Regions from separate parts of the Homo sapiens genome. Here all the other regions are reported to be linked to region 1. Evidence: microRNA targets listed by miRTarBase, many of them from high-throughput screens and not tested one by one. Region 1 holds a microRNA gene; each other region holds the end of a gene's coding sequence.

The links. The annotated mature microRNA hsa-miR-3666 reads CAGUGCAAGUGUAGAUGCCGA and lies in region 1 at 2,015-2,035, shown strand. An mRNA with a match to its seed (bases 2 to 7 or 8) in the 3' UTR can be bound and repressed. Matches are read on the target gene's strand: a 7mer-m8 pairs with bases 2 to 8, a 7mer-A1 pairs with bases 2 to 7 and ends in A, and an 8mer does both.
Region 2: the mRNA of IER3IP1 is a reported target of hsa-miR-3666. Seed matches in the 3' UTR shown: 7mer-m8 at 3,742-3,748, 7mer-m8 at 3,672-3,678 and 7mer-A1 at 973-979.
Region 3: miRTarBase lists ANKRD9 as a target of hsa-miR-3666. Seed matches in the 3' UTR shown: 7mer-m8 at 46-52.
Region 4: the mRNA of ZFYVE9 is a reported target of hsa-miR-3666. Seed matches in the 3' UTR shown: 7mer-m8 at 426-432.
Region 5: miRTarBase lists CLEC12B as a target of hsa-miR-3666. The part of its 3' UTR that is shown has no 7-base or 8-base seed match.
Region 6: the mRNA of DLC1 is a reported target of hsa-miR-3666. Seed matches in the 3' UTR shown: 7mer-A1 at 2,411-2,417.

Annotation. Positions count from the first base shown.
Region 1 is chr7:114,651,359-114,655,448 of GRCh38, forward strand. It overlaps MIR3666 (microRNA 3666), which reads left to right and starts at 1,987; the gene lies at 1,987-2,097. It overlaps FOXP2 (forkhead box P2), which reads left to right. Exons shown (of 17, transcript NM_014491.4): 9 at 845-932; 10 at 2,568-2,651. RefSeq lists an enhancer at 3,696-4,090.
Region 2 is chr18:47,152,333-47,156,409 of GRCh38, forward strand. It overlaps IER3IP1 (immediate early response 3 interacting protein 1), which reads right to left. Exons shown (of 3, transcript NM_016097.5): 3 at 502-3,900. The coding sequence ends at 3,845. Among named protein-coding and RNA genes, the nearest start is that of HDHD2, 3.9 kb to the left of the region's middle.
Region 3 is chr14:102,503,289-102,507,378 of GRCh38, forward strand. ANKRD9 (ankyrin repeat domain 9) reads right to left here. Exons shown (of 4, transcript NM_152326.4): 4 at 1-4,090. The coding sequence ends at 3,648. Among named protein-coding and RNA genes, the nearest start is that of ANKRD9, 4.4 kb to the right of the region's middle.
Region 4 is chr1:52,345,859-52,349,948 of GRCh38, forward strand. ZFYVE9 (zinc finger FYVE-type containing 9) reads left to right here. Exons shown (of 19, transcript NM_004799.4): 19 at 202-776. The coding sequence ends at 363. Among named protein-coding and RNA genes, the nearest start is that of CC2D1B, 18 kb to the right of the region's middle.
Region 5 is chr12:10,017,998-10,022,087 of GRCh38, forward strand. CLEC12B (C-type lectin domain family 12 member B) reads left to right here. Exons shown (of 6, transcript NM_001129998.3): 6 at 334-799. The coding sequence ends at 484. The region is part of intron 2 of LOC102724020 (a long non-coding RNA gene); the gene reads right to left. Among named protein-coding and RNA genes, the nearest start is that of CLEC12B, 9.4 kb to the left of the region's middle.
Region 6 is chr8:13,082,270-13,086,359 of GRCh38, reverse strand. It overlaps DLC1 (DLC1 Rho GTPase activating protein), which reads left to right. Exons shown (of 18, transcript NM_182643.3): 17 at 1-70; 18 at 429-2,999. The coding sequence ends at 549. Among named protein-coding and RNA genes, the nearest start is that of TRMT9B, 140 kb to the right of the region's middle.

The DNA of each region.
Region 1 (4,090 bases):
GGGAAGCATCAAAGACATTATGTATTACAAATTACAGAGTATATATTATTAAATGTTTTCATGTTCATTGGAGATGCTGCTTTACTAAATTACTTTTGGTGTATTAACATACCACTCATTAAAGAGATCTCTTTAAACATCGTATAGAAATAATAATGGTAGACTAATGCATATTCAAGGTTAGAGTGAGATCATTTGGAATGATTTATTTTTCACCATTTTAAAAATAAGATTAGGACAAATGTCTCCTAGTTAGAACACTGGACATGAAATGTCAATCTTGTTATTCTAATGATCAAAATCTTCAATGAAGTTCTTTATTACTAACAGCAAATCATCATTCTTCATAAATATTGATTTTCCACGGGAGATAATTTGCCATCTTTACCTAATTCATACCACATCCCAATGAAATAAAACATTGCTCACTAAAATACATCATAGAAACAACAAACTGTTCTAACAATGAAATAGAAAATTGCCTTTGTTCTCTTCAGAATTGCTTTTGGTTCATAGATTTGTAAGCTGTTCTTTTTAAAAAAATGGCATAAATAATATGACTTCTACTATAACTCTGTAAATGGTCTGGGGAAATATTTTTTGTAATAACAGGTAAGCTTAGAGACAGTGACATTTTCTGCCATTTGAAGAGTCTCTTTACATTACATAAATAATTTTCACACAACACGTAAGCAGCTTTAACTTTTATCTGTATGGTTTCAAGGCTTTCTGTTTTCCCAGTGCACAGAAACATCTGACTTCAGTGTAGTGCTTTTTAAGTGTAGCCTATGCCACTAAGATCGACATCACTTTACATTCTGTTTTGTGTCTTCTGTTTGTTTAGGCACCTTAACAATGAACACGCATTGGATGACCGAAGCACTGCTCAGTGTCGAGTGCAAATGCAGGTGGTGCAACAGTTAGAAATACAGGTTTGTTAAATGCTCACTTAATGGACTCTTCTTAGATTTCTGGTGTGTTACATTGAGTACTGAGCAGATTCTGGGTCTTTCAGCCTGCATTTTACTGTCTTAGCCATTCAATACTAATGGAGATACATGATATTTTAGATTGTTTTAAACAGTGGCAATTATTGATAACCCAGGAAGGATTGCTGTAGTTTAATGTACTTATCACTTATATTTTTATAACTTTTAGACCACATCATATGAATTTGAATATCCCAAAGTAGTCAGATCTAAGTTTTTCCCAATGCAGGTTAGACCAAACTCCCAATTAGATATGATTTTATTACAGAGAGAGTTTTTACATGAGCTAACCTTGATTTTTTTCCATGAGATTTTATATTGTGGCAAATGACCAGTCTTTACAATATCATGCCTGTAATATAACTAACACCCTGAAAGATAACCTTTTCTTTTCTTTTTCTAGTGTAATTTTAATTAAAGAACTTGCAAAAAAATCTTTATACTTTTCTTTAGCTAGATTAAAGGCAGATAATTTATATCACAGATGATAATACACACATGTTGTATCAAATGCGACTGTTTTAAGTTAAAAAAAATTCTATTAATGTTGAAACAGAATTTGGCCAGAAGTAAATAGAATCCATAGAACTAATCAGAAAGCAATTATGTCACCCAAAGTCTGACTCTTGTTATGTTTTACTAAGCCTTTAAGGCTTTCTCTAACATTTCATCTTAAAGATGATCTTTTCTCAATGAAACTAATACTTTGTTTCATTTAAAGATACGATTTTTCTTCATATTTTATTACATCTTGTTTCAAATTCGTGTCATTGCTTTTTTCAGAGAGCTTACTAAAAATATTTTGTTTTGACTTGTAAAATAATCAAGAACACAAAAAGCACCATCACTGTTAAAGTTTAAAAAGCTTTTTATAAACCTGTTTACCATTTATAAAAGGTAGACTAAAACATAAGAGTTCAGCTGATGATACAGTCTTCGGTGTGACCAATTACGCCTATTTTTTTTTTTTCCTTCTGCTGTGTCTGACTGATGGAAAAGTAAGGTCCGTCAGTTGTAATGAGACCCAGTGCAAGTGTAGATGCCGACTCCGTGGCAGAGTTCAGCGTTTCACACTGCCTGGTCTCTGTCACTCTATTGAATTAGATTGATGATGGCAGATTGCAGGGGGCACTAACTGGACCTCAGTGGGAATGCATGAAGTGTGTAGACAATCCTGGCAGGCACTTTGCTTTGAGAACCCTTCACCCCTTCACAGCTGTTGGCACTAGTCCATTGCTAACAGTGTCCACAGGACTTTAAAGAGACACCATGGGCCTTCTAATTTATGGTTTCAGTAACTTGTTACTGTCGAGGCAACTGTGACCTCAATTCTCTTATTGACAAAAAGATGAAGTGTTATTTGTTTTCTCTGACCTTTTAACATAAGAAAAGCTATAAAAGTTTTTCCCCCTCCATAGCTAAAGTTGCATTTCCTCCCAGATAAGTTCCTCCTGACGCAGACTTTTACATGCAGGAATCATTATTCTGAGGCAAGCTCAATGATAAGATGTATCACTGCAATAAAATAGCTGTATCAGTCATTTCTAAAACGCTTCTGATCTCACTCTTTCTTAACAGCTTTCTAAAGAACGCGAACGTCTTCAAGCAATGATGACCCACTTGCACATGCGACCCTCAGAGCCCAAACCATCTCCCAAACCTGTAAGTGCATATTGCTTTATAAACAGTAAATAGCTCTACCAATGTAACAGACTAAGAAAATGAACAATTTAGTGACAGTTAGAAAACAATGAGTGTGATGAAAAATACGGCAATAAAATGAAAGTAAAATGTAATCGCTTGTCAAATTGTATGTTTCTTTTAAAGTAATGCTATCTTTTACAAAATCTATCCAATCTACACCATGGGTGACACTAAACAAAGTACACCTATCAGTGCACAAATCACTGCCTTGGGGCTGAAGCCAGAGAGAATTTCTTTCTGTGATAGGTTTACAGATATTAAAAGGAAACCCTCTTTGAGCAACCTGAAAAGTAGTAACGTACAAATCACAAATAGAAATGTATGTGGTGTGCTGAAGAAGGCAGATCAATCATAAGATACATATAAATAGATTTTTATCAAATATTTTGTCATAAAGGTCATGGTATTTTTATAGCCAATTTTGTCCTATTTCTTTGGTTATTTCAGTTAAGATGTATTTCACATATTGATATGTTTTATTGTACATTATACATAATGTTAATTTAGAGAGCTTATCACAAAAAGAAGTGGGTGATTATAGAAAATTAAGACTAGTTTCCCTCAAAAATATATGAGATTTAAGCTCAACCTAATAATGTAGTCAGATACACAGACTGTTGAAAAGAATATACTTTATCTCATTCAGCTGATGTTTGCACAGAAACTTAGAGTAATCAACTGGGTAACTCTAGTTTAATGAAAGTTTGTGGGATACTTTTTAATAAGGCCCCTGTATAGCCTGATGATTAATGATTGCCAGTCTTGCCTCTCCCTCTATTTCTTTAGGTAAAAAACGAACATTTGGCTTTGTAGTTGGGGAGGAGACAGAAGACGACTATATTGTCTAATTTTCTCGTAATGTCTCGATATTTCTTATCAATTAATATCATTCAAAATTTACTTTTTTGGTAGAGATTATATTTAAACTCTGCTAAGCTATTTCTGCTTTTCCTTTGTACTGTATTTAAAGGTAGAGTACTGTAAAAACATTTTTATAGGAAGAAAAAAGACATGTATCTTTTTGAATCTGACATACTACTTTTTAAACTCTAAAATGTCTGAGTTTTTAATTAAAAAATAAACTTTTGAGGATATTTTTGATCATGTATTTATGACTATCTTTTCAATAAGATTTTTTCCCTCATTGCTTCTATAGTATAATGTAGATAATCACAAGACAGAATAATTGTCTCATAAATCCATCAGGAATCTGCAGCTTGTTCTTTTCCAATTAATTATTCAATCAGTAAATTTTTTAAAACTCCAGCAGCATGGTTACATCTACACTAATAAAGAATTTTCAGCCTATAATCCAAAACAGAACCTGAATGAATAATGTAATTGAAGTATTACATTACATAAACCACACATGAAAGAATTGCTAATTGCGTTTGATG
Region 2 (4,077 bases), not on the chromosome of region 1:
CTTATCTTGATCGTTGATACCCTTGGACATAGCCCACTGTGTCCCAGGTCCTTGCATCGAATGTTTTCACAATATTTGACTTCTAATGAAAAATCAGGGGCCAAGAGAAATCTTAGCAAAGAAGAATTCCATTACCATTGGTATCAAAATGTTATTTTTGTTGTTTTGAGACGGAGTCTCACTGTGTAGCCAGGCTGGAGTGCAGTGGCACAATCTCAGCTCACTGCAACCTCTGCCTCCCGGGTTCAAGCGATTCTCATGCCTCAGCCTCCCAAGTAGCTGGAATCACAGGCATGTGCCACCACACCCGACTAACTTTTGTCTTTTAATAGAGACAGGGTTTTGCCATGTTGGCCAGGCTGGTCTCAAACTCCTGACCTGAAGTGATCTGCCTGCCTCAGCCTCCCAAAATGTTGGGATTACAGGCGTAAGCCACCATGCCCAGCCTCAAAATGTTACATTGGTAATAACTTAGAAACTAATAAATCAATGAGAAAGTGATTTGCTTCATAAGAAACATTTTACTTAAGGAGAACATCTCTTTGGTTGAAGCACATCTAGATACAAACATTAGTGATCTGGAAAAGATATATATATATATCTGGACCAGACTTCTGTTCTGAAGGTTATTGACCAATTTTACAGATAGGACAACCAAAAACTACTGAGGTCTTAGGAAGTTTATTTGCTTTCAGTCACATGGTAAAAGGTTTGCTTGATATATTAGAAATATCTTGCCTCCTAGTCTTTTTACTAGTCAAATATCTTGCTTTCTCTTGTCATTTCACCAGTAATACACATCTAACACATATAGAACACAGATTGCCTACTCTTATTGTATCTAAAGCAAGGATTTTGATGGGGAGAGGAAGGTGGGGGAACTCATTTAGCTTTTTATTTCAATAGCTTTAGGGGTACAAGTGGTTTCTGGTTACATGGATGAATTGTATAGTGGTGTAAAGTCTGAAATTTTAGTGCACCCATCACTGGACTACTGTACATTGTACTCAGTATGTAGTTTCTGTTTCCCTCACCCCCTCCCACCCTCCCTAAAGCAGGGATTTTATTTTTTTATATTTTTACTTTTTTAACTTTTAGGGGTACAGTACATTTGTTAAATAGGTAAACTTGTGTCACGGGGGTTTGGCACAGATTATTTCGTTATCCAGGTGCTAAGCCTAGTACCCAGTAATTTTTCTGGCACTCTTTCTCACCCTCCACCCTCAAATAGCCCCCAGTGTCTGTTGTCCCCCTCCTTATGTCCATGAGGTCTTATCATTTAGCTCCCACTTATAAGTAATAACATGTGGTATTTGGTTTTCTGTTCCTACATTAGTTTGTTAAGGATGATGGCTTCCAGCTCCATCCATGTTCCCACAGAAGGTATTATCTAATTCTTTTTTATGGCTAAAGCAGGGATTTTTATAAGATACTTTTTAGCTATATTTTTGAAAATTTAGGGTTTTATGGAAATGCCTTGGGAAGCCTGACAAGAGTGCAGTGGAGGCTGAATAGTGAGCCTTTGAATCCCAGCTCTACTTCAACTAAAAACAAATAAATGGACCTACTCTCATCTGGTTTAGATACGGGAATGTTACAGTTCTGTGTCAGAATTCCTTTGAAAATCTGGTTCTGCTGTTAACTATAAAAGTTTGAAAACCACTGTACTTGATTAGCGATGAATTTGGTTAATATCTACAGACTAGAGCCAAGAACCTTCGCACAGTTCAGAGACATGCAAACACAGGGCCAGAATACATAAGGACTATAAACATCATCGGTATTTGGAGTCCAGAATCATCACAAATTGTTAATCCTGGTAATAGATAAAGGGGAGGACATGGGCAGGCCAACAGGCACTTAAGTTACTGTCTACTAAAATAACACACTCTGTTTACTGAATCACAACTGCTCTGGGGAAACCAGGGCTGACCAGTGAAAGCTTACAGACCCCTCTTCAGCCACAAACTGGAATTATGAAGTGGCCTCCAGATATGACATATTTTGATGTTCAGTTCAGTGCTTCACTTTCCTCAGAACTACTTGGCTACAGAATACTTTGATCCTGGCCCTTCTGTGACTGCTCCCTGATGGAATATTTGGACAAAATCCCAACACTGAATTAAGATGAAGGTATGCTGTAATGTCTTATATGAAAAATAACATCAGATCAAGGTCTCTCTTTTCTTTCATTTTAAAAAATTTTGTACTGCTCATACCATATGGGGAAATGGGCCTGCCCTCAAGTAACTGCTTCTTTTGAATCTTTTCAGTAGCTCAAACTTGAACTCAGGCATCAGTTCTTTGTAAGGCTAAAAGAACACGGCCTCTAAGTACCAAATTAGTCATTCACATGAGCCAAGTAATCAACTAAGAATCCTTGGTACTTTCCTTGGACTAGCTGCAAGCCTATAGTCCAAAGATCACTGATCTCTAACTTAGGAAAGGCCAAAAGGTACTTAATACCTGCTCCATAGTTTTAGAAGTAACTGAAGTCATGAAATAAAAGGTGCTCATGAGTCTTCTGGATGTATGTCAGCAATTCAGTTAATTCACTGAAGAAAAAAAAATACATGTAAATATTTACTTTCATTAACTCTATACTCGGCAATTTTACAGCAAAGAACATATAATAAGAGGTGTTCACCCAAAATGGAGATTAATGCAGTTAACACTGACAGGTTTATACTAAGGTACAAAAACAAGTGCTTGACTTAGAAATTTAACTTTATTTACAAATGTTCTCCTATAAACAAAGATGCCATTCTACACCTTTAAAATATTGTAACTGATAATTTCCATAAAAACCATTTACATAGTTTCAACCTTTCTGCATAAAACTGTATTATGAGATAGGCAAACAATCTCACAAGATGGTCTGAGACATAAAAACAAAAGACAACCTATCCAGCATCAATGTCCTATTGACAAACTCAATGAAGAATTAAGAATCACACTCCACAATGTGCTGCTCCACCAAGAAATAGAAATGTAATGATTTTTTGAAAGGTAAATGCTTCACAATAAACAGTCTTCTTGGGTAGTACAGTGTAATTGTGATTGTTTAGGACTGCTCTTGTGGGCTAATATTTACGCTGTTGTTTTTTTTAAATCATCATTGTAAAAAGGGCAGACTTATAGATTTTTCTGACAATGAAAATCTGTAGACACTGGTCTGGTCTCATCATTCAGGCAAATTAATAAAATAACAAGTGCATGGAAAGAATGTTAAACAAAAACATAATCATCATGTGACTGACAGAATTCTCCCTGAAATCAGAGAATATTAATACTCAATAGTATGTATAAATTTGAATTTATAGCTGAGACAATAGACAAAATAATTAACCAAGGAGCTTAAAATAAAATTATTCAAATTACCTATTTATCATTTTATGTGCAGTAATTACTTTTTAAAAATCCTTTTAATTTTATCTAGGGATAACCACTCACATCATGGCTAAGTTGCAAGGAACTTCAAAACTTTGAAAAAGAATTTCATCCCTGAGAAGTGAGAGATAGAAAAATATCTAAAAAAAGAGAAGCAACAGTCTTGCACCCTTTTAACAATCTCACCACAGCATGAACTACTATTAACACTGAGCAATCAGATATTCCAGTCCTGGAGAGTTACTGCCTTTCATGATCTGATCTTTTGTAATGAAACTACAAGTGCAACATTAAAAAAAAAAACAGATAAATAGAAACCCTGGTTTTATTTTCAGCTTTACATTTTTGACAAGTGCAAGGTCAGCCAGCTAAGATATAAATATTCCAATAATGACCAAAGTAATAACTTCTACTGGCATGTCCTCTTCTGAGTCTCCATTTTCTCCACTGATATTCATCCAAATAATAAAAGTAACACAATTGCAATTGAGTTTACTATTATCAATGGCACTGTAAAGAGAAAAAAAAAAGTTTGTTACTATAAAGAAAAAACAGAGAAAAAACCAGAAAATAATAATTAGCCTCCAGGAACAATAGAAATATCTAACAATATGTCATCATAATCATGTTGTAAAAAGTTATAACAAAGAAACATTCTAAAATACATTGGATCATGAGATCCAAAAC
Region 3 (4,090 bases), not on the chromosome of region 1:
TTTTTTTTTTTTTGAGATGGAGTCTTGCTCTGTCGCCCAGGCTGGAGTGCAATGGCGCAATCTTGGCTCACTGCAACCTCCGCCTCCTGGGTTCAAGCAATTCTCCTGCCTCAGCCTCCTGAGTAGCTGGGAGTACAGGTGCCTGCCACCACGCCTGGCTAATTTTTTTATTTTTAGTAGAGACGGGGTTTCATCATGTTGGTCAGGCTGGTCTCGAACTCCTGACCTCATGATCCACCCACCTTGGCCTCCCAAAGTGCTGGGATTACAGGTGTGAGCCACCGCGCCCAGCCTTTCCTTCCATCTTGATTGCAGTGGTGATTACACACATGTAGACATTCATCAGAACTCATCAAAGTATACACTTAAGTCTGTGCATTTTATTACATGTAAGTAACACCTCAATCTGAAAAGTATCAGGGCAACACCACACACTGCAGAGGGGCAGGGCTCCTCCGGCAGTTACTCACTTCCCTTGAAACAGAAGCTCAAACATGGAGTAGTCTTCTGTGACTAAACTTGTTTTCCGCCCTCCCAACTTCCAGGAAGAACCTTCTTCTGAATAGGATTTGAGGTAACTTAGGAAACTGCTCTCAATACGGAATTTTAAAGTTGGTGAGGAAGTCGACAGAAGGGGAAGTCACAGTAGGAAAATCAAGGTACTATCAGGATGAAGTCAGCACGCAGAGCAAGGCCAGCGAGGCCCAGGCGCCAGGCCTTGGTCCCTGCCCACCTCACCCAGGCCAGCCAGACAGCACGGACTGCCCTACAAGGTCACCTCAGAGAGATGGGGGTGTTCTCTCACTGCTGGCTTTTGATGAGCCCAGGAGGGCTCAGCCTTCACTATCCTCCCTAACAGGCATTTGGGGTGCAGAGATGCTGACGCCTGAATAAGGTTGGGATTCGGGGCCCTTGGGAACACTGGGCACCTGGTGGGTGGGTGGAGGGGCAGGACCGGCTGCAGCCATGTTTCCCTTAGAAACAGACTGCTGGAATTAACGAACTAAACAAATGAACCAAGGTGCTTCACCCCCCAAAAAAGTGAGTTTTGTTCTGCGTGGAGCGATTGCCTTTGGGAAGCCACCAAGGCCACCTGCCAACAGGCAAATGCTGTGCTGCCGTCTGCCTGGCTGACTCCGGCCCTCCCAGTCCTGCAAGCTCATGGCCAGGACGATAACGATGACAGGGGCAACACCATGGTCCTCGCTGCCCTTCCTGGGGCAGGAGGGCCCAGAAGACTGATAAGCTAAACCCAGGGCCTCCCTCGGCTGCTTATCTGCCCAGCACCTTTCCTCTAGGTCCTCTCCTCCCACCAGTACAGGGGTCTGGGAGGGGGTTGCAGGGGGTCCTGAACCACAGATCCCTGGAGACTCAGTGGGAGCAGCTGTACTAGGAATCAGGCACCACTCCGCTGCTGTAAGTCTTCGTGAGAGCCACTGGCCAGCTTCCTCTGACTTCCCTGTCCCCTCACCCAAATCGATGACATCAGGAGCTAATGGCCCAGGCTGCCCTCCTGCTGCAGTGCCCATAATTCTTCCGGCAGGCCCCGCCCTGCACTCCACGACCAGCCTGGGTTCTTCATCCTGGTAACCTGACAATGGATTTCGTGGGGCCCACTCTCAGTGCCCGCCAGCCTGTGTCCTGCCTGGCCAGGCAATGAGTACCGGCGGCAGGCAGCTGCCTCACCCCTGCATGACCCCCCCAGCCCAGGGGACTCAATGGCGCTGTCATCAAAGGGGCAGCTGTAGATCTAGGAGGGACGTGGAGGGGGCTAGCCCTGGGCCTCTGGCATTGTGGAGGCTGACCTATAGAGAACAGAGCTGGAGCTGGGGAGACATGAAGTCTGCACATCTAGACCCCAGTGAGGAGCCCAGGCTTTCTAGGCACAAGCCCCATGGGCTCCCCGGGCCCAGCCCCTAAGAACCACGGCAGCTGCGCCAGGCCACTCCTGTCTCCACTTCCATACCCTCCAAAGGAGAGGCACCTCCCCCCCCCATGGCATCTCCAATCTGAGGACCTGCCACCTCCCAGAGGACCGGAGGCCCTGATGCCCCAAGAATTGGGCTTGGAAAGATGTTAATATCCACTGCCCCAAGTGCCAAGGTTCAGAGGCACTGGTCCAGGACACACAGCAGCGGGGAAGTGGAACCCTCACTCCAGCCTGCAGTCTGGGCTCTGTCACTGTGCTGTCTCTCCATCCTTCCCTCCCCACAACCAGGGCTGTAGGCCCACCTAACACACCACACACTTCCCAGAAACAGGAGTCACATCCTTTTCAGGGCTGGTAGGGTGGCTGAAGATGGCCCAAAACCTCCTGAATGGAAAAACCTTGATGGGGAGACTGAGGGCCAAGGCAGAGGTTTGTCCAAGGTCACCCCCAGAGTGGCGGATCCAGGACCCTGGGCAAGATCTTCCTACTGTCCAGGCCTCTCCCCCACCTCTCTTGTGTGGCCCAGCACCCTGGACTCCTCCATGCCCAGGTGTGCTCCCCCCAGGCACGCTGGGGGCAGGGTGGGCAGCAGGTGCCCCCCACCAGGATAGTGGTTCTTCCTCCTGCAGACCTTCAGCCCTCTGCTCCTGGCAGGACACTGTGGCCCTCCTGCCCACGTTGGTGCGGGTTGAATTTGACGGCCCAGCAGAATTCCCAGGCAGGGCAGCCTGGCTATCCTCCCTGGTGTCTCGGCTCTGAGAGCGGAGACCCAGCCTCCCAGCCTGGAGTTGTGGTGAATTCGCAAACAAGTCTCCATCTCCAGAACCTTCCTGAAGAAAACAGCTCTCCAGGCTGGGGCAAGAAGCCTGTCCCTACAGTGATACAACCACCCCTCAATAACCCCGGGCACCACCTGGCACCCACTGGGGGCCACCAGGGAGCCCACCAAGCCCACTCCGGGCTTGGACAGAGGGCAGGCCTGGAGGAAGGCACATCCAACCCCACTGACCGGCATGCACCTGGGGCCAGGGGCCTGCTGCCACTGCAGAGGTGAGAAGCAGGAGCAGCAAGACCTGGTGCCCATTAGTCATGGGGGAAAAGCAAAAGGGGGAGACAGGGACAAATCCAGGCCTGGGTGGGCTGCCTGTCAGGGGGAGTGATATCCAAGGAGGAACTGGTGGTCAGAGTGGGGTGGGGGATACCCGGTACAATTTGTTCATGCCTCAACACCAGCCACCGCGGGCCTGCCAGCCCTGTGTGCCCTCCCTGGCCCGGAGTCCACAGGGTGCAAAAGGCTGACCGCACAGGACCTCCCGTGAGAACCCTACGCTGCAGAGCTCGTTCTCTTGGCTTCCAGGCCTTTTTATACGCTGTCCTGCTGCTTGGACATGCCAGTCCCCACCCCTGCACCTACCGAGCTCCTGCGGCACTCAGCTGTCACCCATCTGGGACGCACACCTGTCCGAGGCTCTAGATCAAGGTGGGAGGTTAGTCCTCACTCCCTTCAGGGGCTGGACAGCGAGCTGAAGGCCCGAGCCCAGCTGCACCCAGAAAACCTGCCACTTGGAACTCACCTGACCATCCAAGCCCAGCCCCCAGTGCATGCGACAGATGAGGCAGAGATTGTGCCGTACAGAGATCAATATATATAAAGTGCCGGTACAACGCTCTGAAAAATAGTTTTGTCCCAAAATCCAGCGCCTAGGGTGCTCCGGGCCTAGCCTTTGCCAGTGAGGTCCAACGGCTGCAGGAATGGGGGCAGCGGCAGCTCGTCCAGGGCCTCGGGGAAGCGGCCTGGAGAGATGGCGGTGACCAGCACCTGCATGGCGCGCGCGAAGAGCGAGGGCGGCGCCAGGCCCGCCAGCCACTGGAACTTGTCCTCACCCAGCAGCCGCTGCCAGCGCGGCCGGTCGCCCAGCAGCTCCTGGCGGGCCGAGCCGGCGGCACCCACGGGGGTGTACAGCGCCAGGAGGTCCAGCAGCAGCAGGCGGCGCTGGCGCGGCTCCCCGGGAGCTGAGGCGGGGGCTCCGGCGGCGGAGGGAGTGGCCCCGGCGTCGCGGCCCAGCTGGCGCAGCAGCAGCTCGAGAGGCGTGAGGCCGCCGCCGTCCCGCAGACCGGGCGAGGCGCCGTGGCCCAGCAGCAGGAAGAGGCACTCGGGGC
Region 4 (4,090 bases), not on the chromosome of region 1:
CTCATGGTTGTCAAGTGGTCAGGAGGAGTAAACAACAGGATAAGTGATCACCCAGAAAAGAGGATAAATTTGTATTCACTGCCATATGTTTAGCCTATGGCCAAAAAGGACATCTCCTTTCCTGCTCAGCCTCCTTGCCCTCAGCCCTGGAGAGGCCTTCTCTGTTCAGTAACCTCTCCTCCTTTTCTCTCTGTGGTATAGGTTGGCTATCAAGCAGGGAGCAATGGCCAGCCCCTTCCCTCGCAGTACATGAATGATCTGGACAGCGCCTTGGTGCCGGTGATCCATGGAGGGGCCTGCCAGCTTAGTGAGGGCCCCGTTGTCATGGAACTCATCTTTTATATTCTGGAAAACATCGTATAAACAGAGAAGACTTCATTTTTTTCTGTTCAGACTTGTTGCAACAGCAGTCATACCCAAATCATTTGCACTTTAAAACTGGAAGATTAAGCTTTTGTTAACACTATTAATGGGGTGGGGAATAGGGTGGGAGTGGGGGTTTGGGAGACGGGTGGGAAAGGGTGGTTGGGGGGACCGATGTTCCATAATTCTAAGTCTTCTATGCATTGTCCACCAAGAAGATCTGGGCAGCTTCTGTTCCTGCACAACAGTTATGCTATCCTTGCAGCTAATCCCCTTCTGTTACTGTTTAGACAAGAATTCCGCTCCTCTCTCAAGATTTACTTATGGTCATGTGCTCAGAAATGCTCAAATGGGTACAACCATCACCAAGGGTGGGATGGGAGGGCAGAGGGGAAATAAAATATAAAGCATCAGTTCTTGCACTCTTTGTACAGAATTGGTATAAAAAGGATAATTCCACACTGATCTTGTCCCAGTTACATCACAGCTGTTTATCAAGTAGAAGTCACACTTAGATTTTTGTTTTTACCAGATTATTCATTGAAGTGAATCGAAGACTCAAGGGCTTAATCTACTCTTCCAGTTTCGGAAGGGCAACTCAGTGTAAATGTCATGTGGAGAGCAGAGGTGAGTTCAGGATTGCTGGAGATCTGCCCGTGTGGATGGCAGGTATTCAACTGGGTATTTCTGTGAATGCTGATGGAATACACCCAGGACATTTTTAGTTATAAATACTGGAGGAATTTAAAAATACATTTTATTGAGAAATAATTTAAACTTCTAGGAAGTTGAAAGTACAAAAAACCCCACGCACACTTTACCCAGATTCCCCTCTTGTTCACTTATTAACATTTTGTCCCATTTGATTTGTCAGGGTTTCTCTCTCCCTTTCTCCTTCTCCATAAAAAATTGAGGCATTTGAGAGTAAATTGCGTACATCATAGGCCTTTCCTCCTAAATGCTTATTTCCTAAAAATAAGGATATTCTCTTACACAACTGTAGGACAGTTCTCTACTTCAGTCAAACATGGATTTGATACTTTAACCTGGCATCTGCCCAGTGATGTTCTTTGTAGCATTTTTTCCCTCCAGTAAACCTTCCAGTATAGAATCAGACATGGCTATGGCTGTCATGACTCATCTTGATCTTTTATGTCATTGATATGTATTTTTTTTGAGACGGAGTCTCGCTCTGTCACCCAGGCTGGAGTGCAGTGGTGCAATCTCGGCTCACTGCAATCTCCGCCTCCCAGGTTGAAGCGATTCTCCTGCTTCAGCCTCCGGAGTAGCTGGGATTACAGACGCCCGCCACCACCCCCAGATAATTTTTTTGTATTTTTAGTAGAGACAGGGTTTCACCATGTTGGCCAGGCCTGAGCTCAAGTGATCCGCCATCCTCTGCCTCCCAACTCCTGATCTCAAGTGATCCGCCATCCTCTGCCTCCCAAACTGCTAGGATTACAGGTGTGAGCCACCGCACTCAGCCTCATTGATATTTTTGGTGAATGTAGCCACCCCCAACCCCACCCTGTTTTTTTTTTTTTAACAGAAAACAACTCAGTTTGATATTTCCTCATATTTAGAATCAGTTTATGTGTTTTTGCCCATAATGACTTGATATCCATCTGCCCCCTCATTGATAGTGGTAAATTTTGATCACTTGGTCAAGGTGTCCAACTTCTCTGTATATCCCCCTACCTGGAACTTATAACCAGTATATGTAGACTTTCAGACCATGCAAATCTCTTGCCTATGAAAGTGTCCCGTTAAATTAGCATGCATTGATGTTTCTTACCTGCACTGATCTTTTACTATGTTTGCAAAATGATTTTCCAATTCTAGCGCATTCTCCAGCTTTACAGGTTGCACTTGGTAATCTACTATAAGCAGAAGCCCTTCCTTCCCAATTTATTCATTTAATTTTCATTATACACTCATGGACTGTTGTTTTGCTTTGTTTTGTTTTGAAACAGTGTCTCACTCTGTCACCCATGCTGGAGTGCAGTGGCACAATCTTAGCTCACTGCAGCCTCAAACTTCTGGGCTCAAGCAAACCCCCCACCTTGGCCTCCCAAAGTGCTGGGATTACAGGCATGAGCCACCAAGCCTGGCCTTTTTCAGTGGTTCCAATTCATTATTTTGGTGCACAAATGGTCTCAGCTTTAGCTAGACAAGAGACCCTTCAAGCTGGCTCCTACATCCTGGTGATATGCTATTTTTTTTTTTTTTTTTTTTGAGTACTTCTTTTTTATTTCTATCCTAACAAGATGCTTCAGGCTTATCTTGTGCTTATCCTGCCCTAGCCCTGGAATCAGCTATTTCTGCAAGGAGCCCTGGCTTCTTTTAATGGGAGTGGTATTAGAAACCAAAATCTGGTTTATCCATGATATGTGTGATGCACTCTGACCTTTTTCTGTTTCATTAAAAATTTATTTTGATCTTAGACCAAATGGATTCCACAATGCACATTTTGAAAATACTGCTTTAGGGCAATGTACTCCATTGTCACTGGCATCTTCTGAAAGCCAAGGCTAAACTAGTTTTTCTGCAGTATTAGTACAGCTCCAAGAATTCCCTGGAAGCTAGCGCAGGCCTGTGGGACAGCGACAGGCTGCTCCCCAGTGGCTAGTGCTGGGTTTAGCACGAGGCAACAGCAGGCTGTGGAGCTGTGTTTGCGGCAGCAGCTGTTTTCCAGAGGCCTAAAGGCCTGGCCTGGGAAACATCTGGGTAGGTTCATCCTGCTCTCTGAGGTGGGAGCTTATAGTCGACATCTGCCTCTCCAAAGGTTTTACCGACGGTGGTTGCACAGAACTCTTACTGTGACCTTTCCCACAGGCTCAGAGGTACTCAGAGCTTCTAAGGGGAAGCTTGGCCCACAGAGCAGCAGCTTGTCAGGACCGAGCCCTGGTAACCACTACCTCCAAACCTGACAAGAACAGGAAGCACTTGTTAACAGGGGCAGCTTATTTTTGGTCTAATAGCCAGCTTTGTCTGAACATACCTCAAAAGTCTGGAACTTCTACAGGGACTGGTCCTGTTTTCCTGTGGTTTATCTTCCTGCTTGCCATTGTACTTATTTATTCTGGTTCAGTGCAAGCTTTTAAATTCTCCCACTAAGGACAAACTCTGGCCCTCAGATCCTTTCTCAGCTGCATCAAATGTCCTCTGTGTTTAGTAAAATCATTTGTGGAATTGGGCATAAAATAGCCAATGATAGTTAATTGTTTTCCTTGTTTATCCTTGCTTTTATACAATGTATATTGTAAGAATTATATAAAGCAAGGGGCTGAACCACATTTCGAAATAGGCAAATCTTCTGGATTGTAAACTTAAAGATTGAGATACAGCGATCCTTCTATACTTAAGAGGAATAGAATTGCCATTCTGGTAATTTATTAAATTTTTTAAAATTATTAAATGCTTATCAAATGCTAGGCAATGTATTTTTATCAACATCTTCTGAGGAACTACTGGACTCTAGGGCTACAGATTTGAAATTATGCCTCTGTAAATTCCCACGTCTTGTCTTCCCCCAGCCACAGTGGTTCCTGAGCACTGGTGGGCCCAAGATTTTCAGTTAAGTTTACCTCTAGATAACTGGTCACCTGGGAAATAATTTATGCATTTAACACATTTCAAACAACAATCAACCTGCTGAACATTGTTTCTGGAATTAGCAAGTTTGTAATGATGTTTCTATTTTTTTTTTTTTTGAGGTCGGAGTTTT
Region 5 (4,090 bases), not on the chromosome of region 1:
TCAAGTACTTCTAATATAAGCTGAACTGATTAGATTTCATTAATGGAATTACATATTTATGAAGGAAATACAAATTCTCAGTCCAGGATTTAAGTATTTCTCTTAAAGAATTCTACCTGGGATTATGATTAACTTAAAATAAAGAACCCAGATGTGCCAGCTCTGGGCAGATTTTGTGCCAGCTTTAGGCAGCTTCAGATTTTGAAGCTTTGTGGAGGCAGAAGTCTCTCCATATTCAGATACATGACATTGGCTGTAAGAGCAACTGAGGGCACTAAATAGTGATCACGTTTCAAATACAGAATTTATAATTAATTTTAAATTAATTTTCAGATTTAGTACTAAAGAACTTGACCAGATCAATGGATCCAAAGGATGTGCTTATTTTCAAAAAGGAAATATTTATATTTCTCGCTGTAGTGCTGAAATTTTTTGGATTTGCGAGAAGACAGCTGCCCCAGTGAAGACTGAGGATTTGGATTAGTATGCTTCTTCCAAATTCTCCAAGAAGTAAGAGACTTGTGAGTAAGCTCATATGAGGAAAGAGGAAACTACGGTACCAGAGCCAAACCAGCTTTTAAAATGACTGTGTATTTACATTATCAGACAAATGAACTTGTTTAACAGAACATTCTCCAGTTCCTTGTCTGACGTCTTCTGATTTGATGTTATTATTCGGTCTTAAAATTATACCTGGGGACAAAGGGGAATAGCCATACTATGGCCCTATGATTGTCTCAGAATCATTTCACTGAATTTCTTTGCTTTCTCAAATAAAGACTCCTTTCTTTCATTATTATTATACTGTCACGTGTGCACTAGGGTGATATTTAAATATTTAAAAACTAGGGTGATATTTAAATATTTAAAAACACAGGCCACAGCACTAGAACAAGGTCCAAGAGATGCCTGTTGTGATAGTTGCTGGGTCATGTGGAGGTCTGGGGGATCCCAGGCTAAGGGTCCTGGTAGCTGGGGCTGCAGCACTGTATCAACTGATTTGGAAATATTTTATTTTAGCAAATGTTTGTACCACTGTGAACCAGCTAAGTGTCGCCCTGCACTTGCAAAATAGCTTTTCTTCTCCAACAACCCTATGAAAATAAGCGTTCTTATTAATCTTTAAAATTTAGATAATTTATAATCTAGGCATAATAATTTAATATTTACTTTTTTTTGAGACACTGTCTCACTCTGTTGCCTAGGCTGTAGTATTGTGATGTGATTGGCTCACTGCAGCCTCAATCTCCTGGGCTCAATCGATCCCTCCCACCTCAGCCTCCCGAATACCTGGGACCACAGGCATGCAACACCATGCTCAGCTAATTTTTGTATTTTTTTGTAGAGACGAGGTTTCACCATGTTGCCCAGGCTGGTCTCAAACACCTAGGCTCAAGCTATCTGCCAGCCTCAGCCTCCCAAAATCCTGGGATTACAGGTGTGAGCCACTGCCCCTGGCCAATATTTATGTGTTTGTCATTTATTTAAATTAGTAATATTGATGTTATTGATTTTGTAATCTGGGTATTATTATAAAAATATATTCTCTTACAATTGATATTTTGTTTCCCTCAGAAAAGTCCTAATAAACTGTTTGAAGACATCAAAATAGAAGAACCATTATCTTTAATTATTTAGACCTTTCCTGAATCACAGTTTGTCAGTGTTCCTGCACACTAGATGCTAAATATTGTAAATCTAGGGTTCAAGATTTTTCCTGGAACAAAATTGCTGATTTCAGAGTACTGGTAAAGGATGTAGTTTTCCATTTATCTTCACATAGTTCCATAGCTATATATAGGAAGAAAATAATGATAAATTAGCCTTTGATACTGATTTTGCTAGATCAGAAATCTAGAATTTACTGGAAAATTGATATAATCTAAATTCAAAGTTAGATGCATTTCAATACTTTGACAGTCCTTTGAAACTACCACTTCATACATACCATCTAGTAGCTTCTTATTCTCTAAATATTTAAAATTATCAACTAATCAATGTTTTATATAGGCACCAACAGAAACTCTAGAACAAAGGAAAAATGTCAAGTGTGAAAATTTAGTAAAAATTACAAACAATATATTTAAGCACAACTTTTTAAATACAGACAATTATCATAGTTCAAGTAAACAGTGTTTCTTAGTTCTTATACGGGATTCAAACATAAGTTATATACACATGGATTAAAGAAGAAACTTGATTCTTCCATTTCTCTTTAGCAGTTTGCCCCTGGCATTCTCACAAAGATAAAATTATTTCTTAAAGGTCAAAATCTGTGCCTCTGACTCTCACACATTTGGGTTTCGTTTTATTCCCATGAGAAAAATAAGTTCTTTCATTCCTCTATTTCTAATTAAAAAAATCTACTTTTAATAATTAAAATACCTTAGTTGGTTATTTTGTTCCTATTAAGAAGTTACAGGTTTTTTTTTCTGGTATCTTGTATATTTTAATTCTCATTTCATGTAAACTCTTTTATACTCATTAAAAGAAAATTTCTGTTTCTGACCTTACAGTGCTCTGGATCTTGATCAGCTCCTATTACTAAGAGCTCCCTCCCTGCTGCCCTGCTATCATCATATTATCCCTGACGACCTCTACAGTAGATGCATAAATCCAGAGTTCTCAAGATTCACTAGCCCTTTGTGTCAGAATACTTCATCCTTTGATTCTGATAACTTAGCTTATGAGACAGGACTTGATTCCAGAAATTTTCATCTCTTTCTTTTTCTTTCTTTCTTCCTCTCCTACTGCCCCTACACCCTCTCCAGTCAAAATCCCTGAGATATTTTATTTATATATACAGGTATATACAAATGGTATATTTTTAGGGGAAAGACCATTGATATGGTTTGGATCTGTGTCCTTACCAAATCACATGTCAAGATGTAATCCCCAATGCTGGTTGTGGGGCCTGGTGGGAGGTGATTGGGTTATGGGAGCAGATTTCTCATGAATGACTTAGCACCATCTTCTTGGTGCTGTTCTCATGATAGCGAGTTCTCGCAAGATCCGGTTGTTTAAAAGTGTGTAGCATCCCCACCAACCCCACCCCACACCCTCTCTCCTGCTCCTGCTCCAGCCGTGTGAAGTACCCACCCCTCCTTCATCTTCCACCATGACTGTAAGTTTCCTGAGGCCTCCCCAGAAGCCCAGCAGTTTCCAGCATCATTCTTCCTGTACCGCCTGAAGAACTGTGAGCCAATTAAACTTTTTTCTTTATAAATTACCCAGTCTTGAGTATTTCTTTATAGCAATGTGAGAATTTAACATGGGTTCCAAACATGGCTTCACATCAGATTTACATGGATAGTCCCTTAAAGGCACAGATATTTGGGCCACGCGTCAGATCTATAAAATCAGAATGATTGGAAGACAGAAATGGAGAATCTGTAAGTTTCTCAAACTACACAGGTGATTTTTATTAACACAGCCTGAGTGGCAATGTTTGGATAAATAACCTCAATACTAACTCCCTGAGCAAATAGGCCCAGAGGCGAAGGTGCTGGAACCATCTTCAAACTGGATGGCTCTTTCTGCAACGTTAGCAAATTTGGTTTGGTTTGTGCAGACCACGTTAGGTCAGGACAGATCAGAATTGGGACAGATATAGTGACAGTTCTCAACTATTTCACTGTTGTAATCTTAGCCAACAAGCCCTTACTGAGGGTATTAATTGGCATGGTTGGGATGGACAAGTGATATGAAGTTTGATCTGTTTAGCTCTCTGAAAATAGTTCTCAATTTTGCTGCACACTGAAATTATACTGGGGAGCTTTGAGGAAATACTGATGCCTAAGATTGTCCCACCTCTTAAGATGCTGATTTCATTGATGAGAAGTGTAGCTGGGCTATTAAAAAAATTTAAATTTCCTACATGATTCCAATCTGAAGCTAAGGTTGAAAATCCTTGTACTGAGGTTGGCCCAATGGCCCCTATTTTCAGTAAAATAGCCAACCCTCCATTATATATTAAGAAAACGGGTGAACTAGCTCCATTGGTGATGATTACACATGGTTGAGACAGGGACAATAATGATGATTACCTGAAACTAGGATTGATGGTATATTCGAGGCTGCATACAAGCAT
Region 6 (4,090 bases), not on the chromosome of region 1:
CCAGGTATTTGATTGAACCCTGTGGGCCAGGAAAATCCAAACTCACCTACATGTGCAGAGTTGACTTAAGGTATGTTCTGATTCTGATTTTTTTATATGGTGAGGGTCATGAAGGAAATTCTGACTTTTTGTCTAATGCAAAGAATGCCTTAAACAAACACGTCATTTTTTCTTGGTGACTTCATGAAGAATGGTGTTTAGAAAGTAGCATTTCATGTTTGTTGGTCTTTCAGCGACCACTTCGTAATTTGGTTCCCTTAGAAAATGTGGTTCTAAAGCAAAGCAAATATGGTAGCTCGGCCATGAATTCAAAGGCATGGGAAATGATAGATTTTATGCATTTGAACTAGCAAACAGATGTTTCTCATTTTATTTCCATGCTTTCTAACTTAAATAATTCATCAGCTTTTCTTTCTTTTCTCTGATAGGGGCCACATGCCAGAATGGTACACAAAATCTTTTGGACATTTGTGTGCAGCTGAAGTTGTAAAGATCCGGGATTCCTTCAGTAACCAGAACACTGAAACCAAAGACACCAAATCTAGGTGATCACTGAAGCAACGCAACCGCTTCCACCACCATGGTGTTTGTTTCTAGAACTTTTGCCAGTCCTTGAAGAATGGGTTCTGTGTCTAATCCTGAAACAAAGAAAACTACAAGCTGGAGTGTAGGAATTGACTATAGCAATTTGATACATTTTTAAAGCTGCTTCCTGTTTGTTGAGGGTCTGTATTCATAGACCTTGACTGGAATATGTAAGACTGTGCAAAAAAAAAAAAAAAATTTATGTGTATTCTTATTCAAATTGCTTCTGAGAAGCAAAACTCTTTAAATACATTATGGAAGATAATGAAGATACTTCATTCTCTTGTGATATCAGTGTATGCGTACCTGTGTCGCTTTATTTGCAGTGTGTTGAGGGACTGGTGTATCCACTGGAATAGTTGGTACTCTTGGATGTGTTTTCTCACCAAGATGAGCAAAGAAAGGTTTGCACAGAGGAGTGTGAATGTGTGTTTGTTGCTGGCTGAATGGCAATAGATGTCTAAGGTGGATTCAGTGTCTGGCACACTGAGACACCTCCAAGAAGGAGATTGATGCATCAGGTTCAGTTTAACCTGGAATATCTGACTACCCCTGAATCCACCCAGAAAGGGGGCCCAACACCCTTGTCCATTTATGGGTATTTTTTTTCGAAGTTATTAAGCATATTCCTTTTCCACGAACCTCTTCTGTACTTTGATTGTAATAGGTTGGCTCTTACACCCATTCCAAATGCAGTTTATTTTTAGACCCGATTGCAAATAGTGATGTAGTTTTAACCAGTATGGATTAGTTCAGGGATGAACTGCTCCCTCTAGCCTTACTGGCTCTGATCCACAGGGTTTTGTTTTGTTTTGTTTTGTTTTTTGTTTAAGTCGAGATATAAAAACTGAACACGATAACACTTACTCTTAAATCAAGCATCAACACTTTTTCCCTGTTAGAATTCTTTGCATTTTTGTGTTTGTAACAGAAACGCCTTAAGACACTATGTTTGGGAATATAGGAAACTATGTGTGTCCCAAGGAAATCCCTGTAAATTTAACTCACCTACAAAAGGCTTTTTCCCCGCCTTTGGTTGTTAACGGCATTCCTGAAAGCCACATGTGTTTATTCATTGGGCTTGTTCTTATCAGCAAATAGGTTTTCTGGTTTTATGACTTTTTGTCTTATTTTATTTTTCCTACATTTCTTTTTTTTTTTTTTTCCTTTAGAATGCCCTGGAAATATATTTAAGTGGTAATGAAAAATAGTAATCATAGTAAAACGCAACAAGAAGAAAACCAACCCAAACCAGTGAAGTTTTTTAGAACCTTTAGAAGGGTGGTCTTTATTCAGGTTTTACTGTAATGGTAAGGATTGACTCAAGAGACAGTATTAGTAAATTTATTGTGTATGGATCAAAAGTGAATAATGTATGAATGAGAGCTGTAAGAAGGATTTTTATTTTGTTATAATTTAGTTACCATTTTCAGTGTTATTTCAAAGGTTCTTTGAAGAATTTTGGGGCAGGGCATCAGATTAGAGTTTTAAAATTTGAGTATTTTGGATATCAGTGTTCCTCATGAAGATATACATGGATATTCAATTTTGATGGCTTCCAGATTTGTAAGATTGTATGTTGTATATACCATTCTATTAAGAAACATGTCCACTGTGCTTTCAAACATAGATAAAGCATGATAAAGATTATTATTTAAGATATACTTGTATTTATACCTCAGATATTCTTTTGGGTTTTGTACCTCAAGGCTTTTTTCTTCTTATTGTAAATACACTTTACGTGAATACAGTCTAAGTGAAGAAAATAAATAAAAGGAAGAGGTTTATAACTTGCTCTATATCTGTACAGATTATAATCAATAAGTGCACTATTATTAAATGTTTAAAGTAAGGGAAAAGTCTGGGCTGCCTTCCTTAATATTGCATCTCACTCCCACCCTTAAAACCACAGATTGCAAAGCATAGCATTTTAGCATCAACTACAATCAAAAGAGCGATTTGCTGAAGGAAAAATCGGACTGCAAATCATTCCAAGGCCAAACTGCAACTGAGCCACCCACTCCCAAACAGGAAACCCTGGTGAAGGTTCAGGAAGCACGGAGATTCTCTCCAACAAAGGTCCAGTTAGGAAACGACGCTGAGAGGATGACGACAACGTGCAACAGCAGAAAGATGCTTGCAAGCAGAGTCAGGGTCACCAGTGAATGCCACAAAAGTTCTCTTTCCCACTGTTTAATTTGACAAGAGAAGAATTTGAAGGATATGAACATTTTCAAGAACTCTGCTGAGGTCACTTAGAGCGCCATCACAACTTATTTGTGTGACTAATTGCCTAGATTGTAAGCTCTTTGAGGGCAGGGCTTGTCTCTTACACATCTTTATAATCCCCTGCAGCGGCTTTCAGTATTTTGTACTTGTAGGCACCTAATAAATTTATTATTTGCTATACTGAACTGATTGGATTAGCTTCTGTTACTGCAAAGGGAAGAGCATCTAGGATCCCGATCATCTTAAAGCCTCCTTTTCATTCACTGCTGATTTTCAGATGACAGAGACTGGAAATTTCCAACTTCATGGGACTTTTTTTTTTTTTTTTTTTTTTTTTTTTTTTGAGATGGAGTCTCTGTCTGTCGCCGAGGCTGGAGTGCAGTGGCGCGATCTCGGCTCACTGCAAGGTCCACCTCCCGGGTTAACGCCATTCTCCCACCTCAGCCTCCCCAGCAGCTGGGACTACAGGTGCACGCGGCCACGCCCGGCTAACTTTTGTATTTTTAGTAGAGATGGGGTTTCACTGTCTTAGCCAGAGTGGTCTCGATCTCCTGACCTTGTGATCCACCCGCCTCGGCCTCCCAAAGCACTGGGATTACAGGCGTGAGCCACCGCGCCCGGCCACTTCATGGGATCTTAAGTTTTAAACTGAAAAAGACAAATTAACCTGTTGGAGTCTTAAATTTAAACTGATGAAGGTGACATAGATACTATATATAGATACTATGGCTACTGATTTTAAACAGTTTGTGATGGCATTTTAACAAATCACATGTCTCCCAATGTGATGTCTATCCTAGAAGAGGTTGTATTTCAACAAATACTTACTTTGGGCATAGAAAAAGGTTGGTGGGGGGGGGGCCCTAACCTTATAATCCGTTTTGTTTTGTTTTTTTTGTTTTGTGATTTGTTTGTTTTCGAGACAGGGTCTCACTCTGTTGCCCAGGCTGGAGTGCAGTGGTATGATCAAGGCTCACTGCAGCCTTGACCTCCCTGGCTCAAGCGATCCTTCCAACTCAGCCTCTCAAATAGCTGGGACTGCAGGCGCATACCACCACACCCAGCTAATTATTGTATTTTTTGTAGCAATGGGGTTTCACCATGTTGCTGAAGCTGGTCTCGAACTCCTGGACTCAAGCGATCCCCCACCTCGGCCTCCCAAAGTCCTGGGATTACAGGCATGAGCCACCATGCCCAGCCTTCCCCTTATCATTTTTTAAAAGACACACACACACACACACATCAGGGACTTTTTTTTTTTTTTTTGACTCTTCAA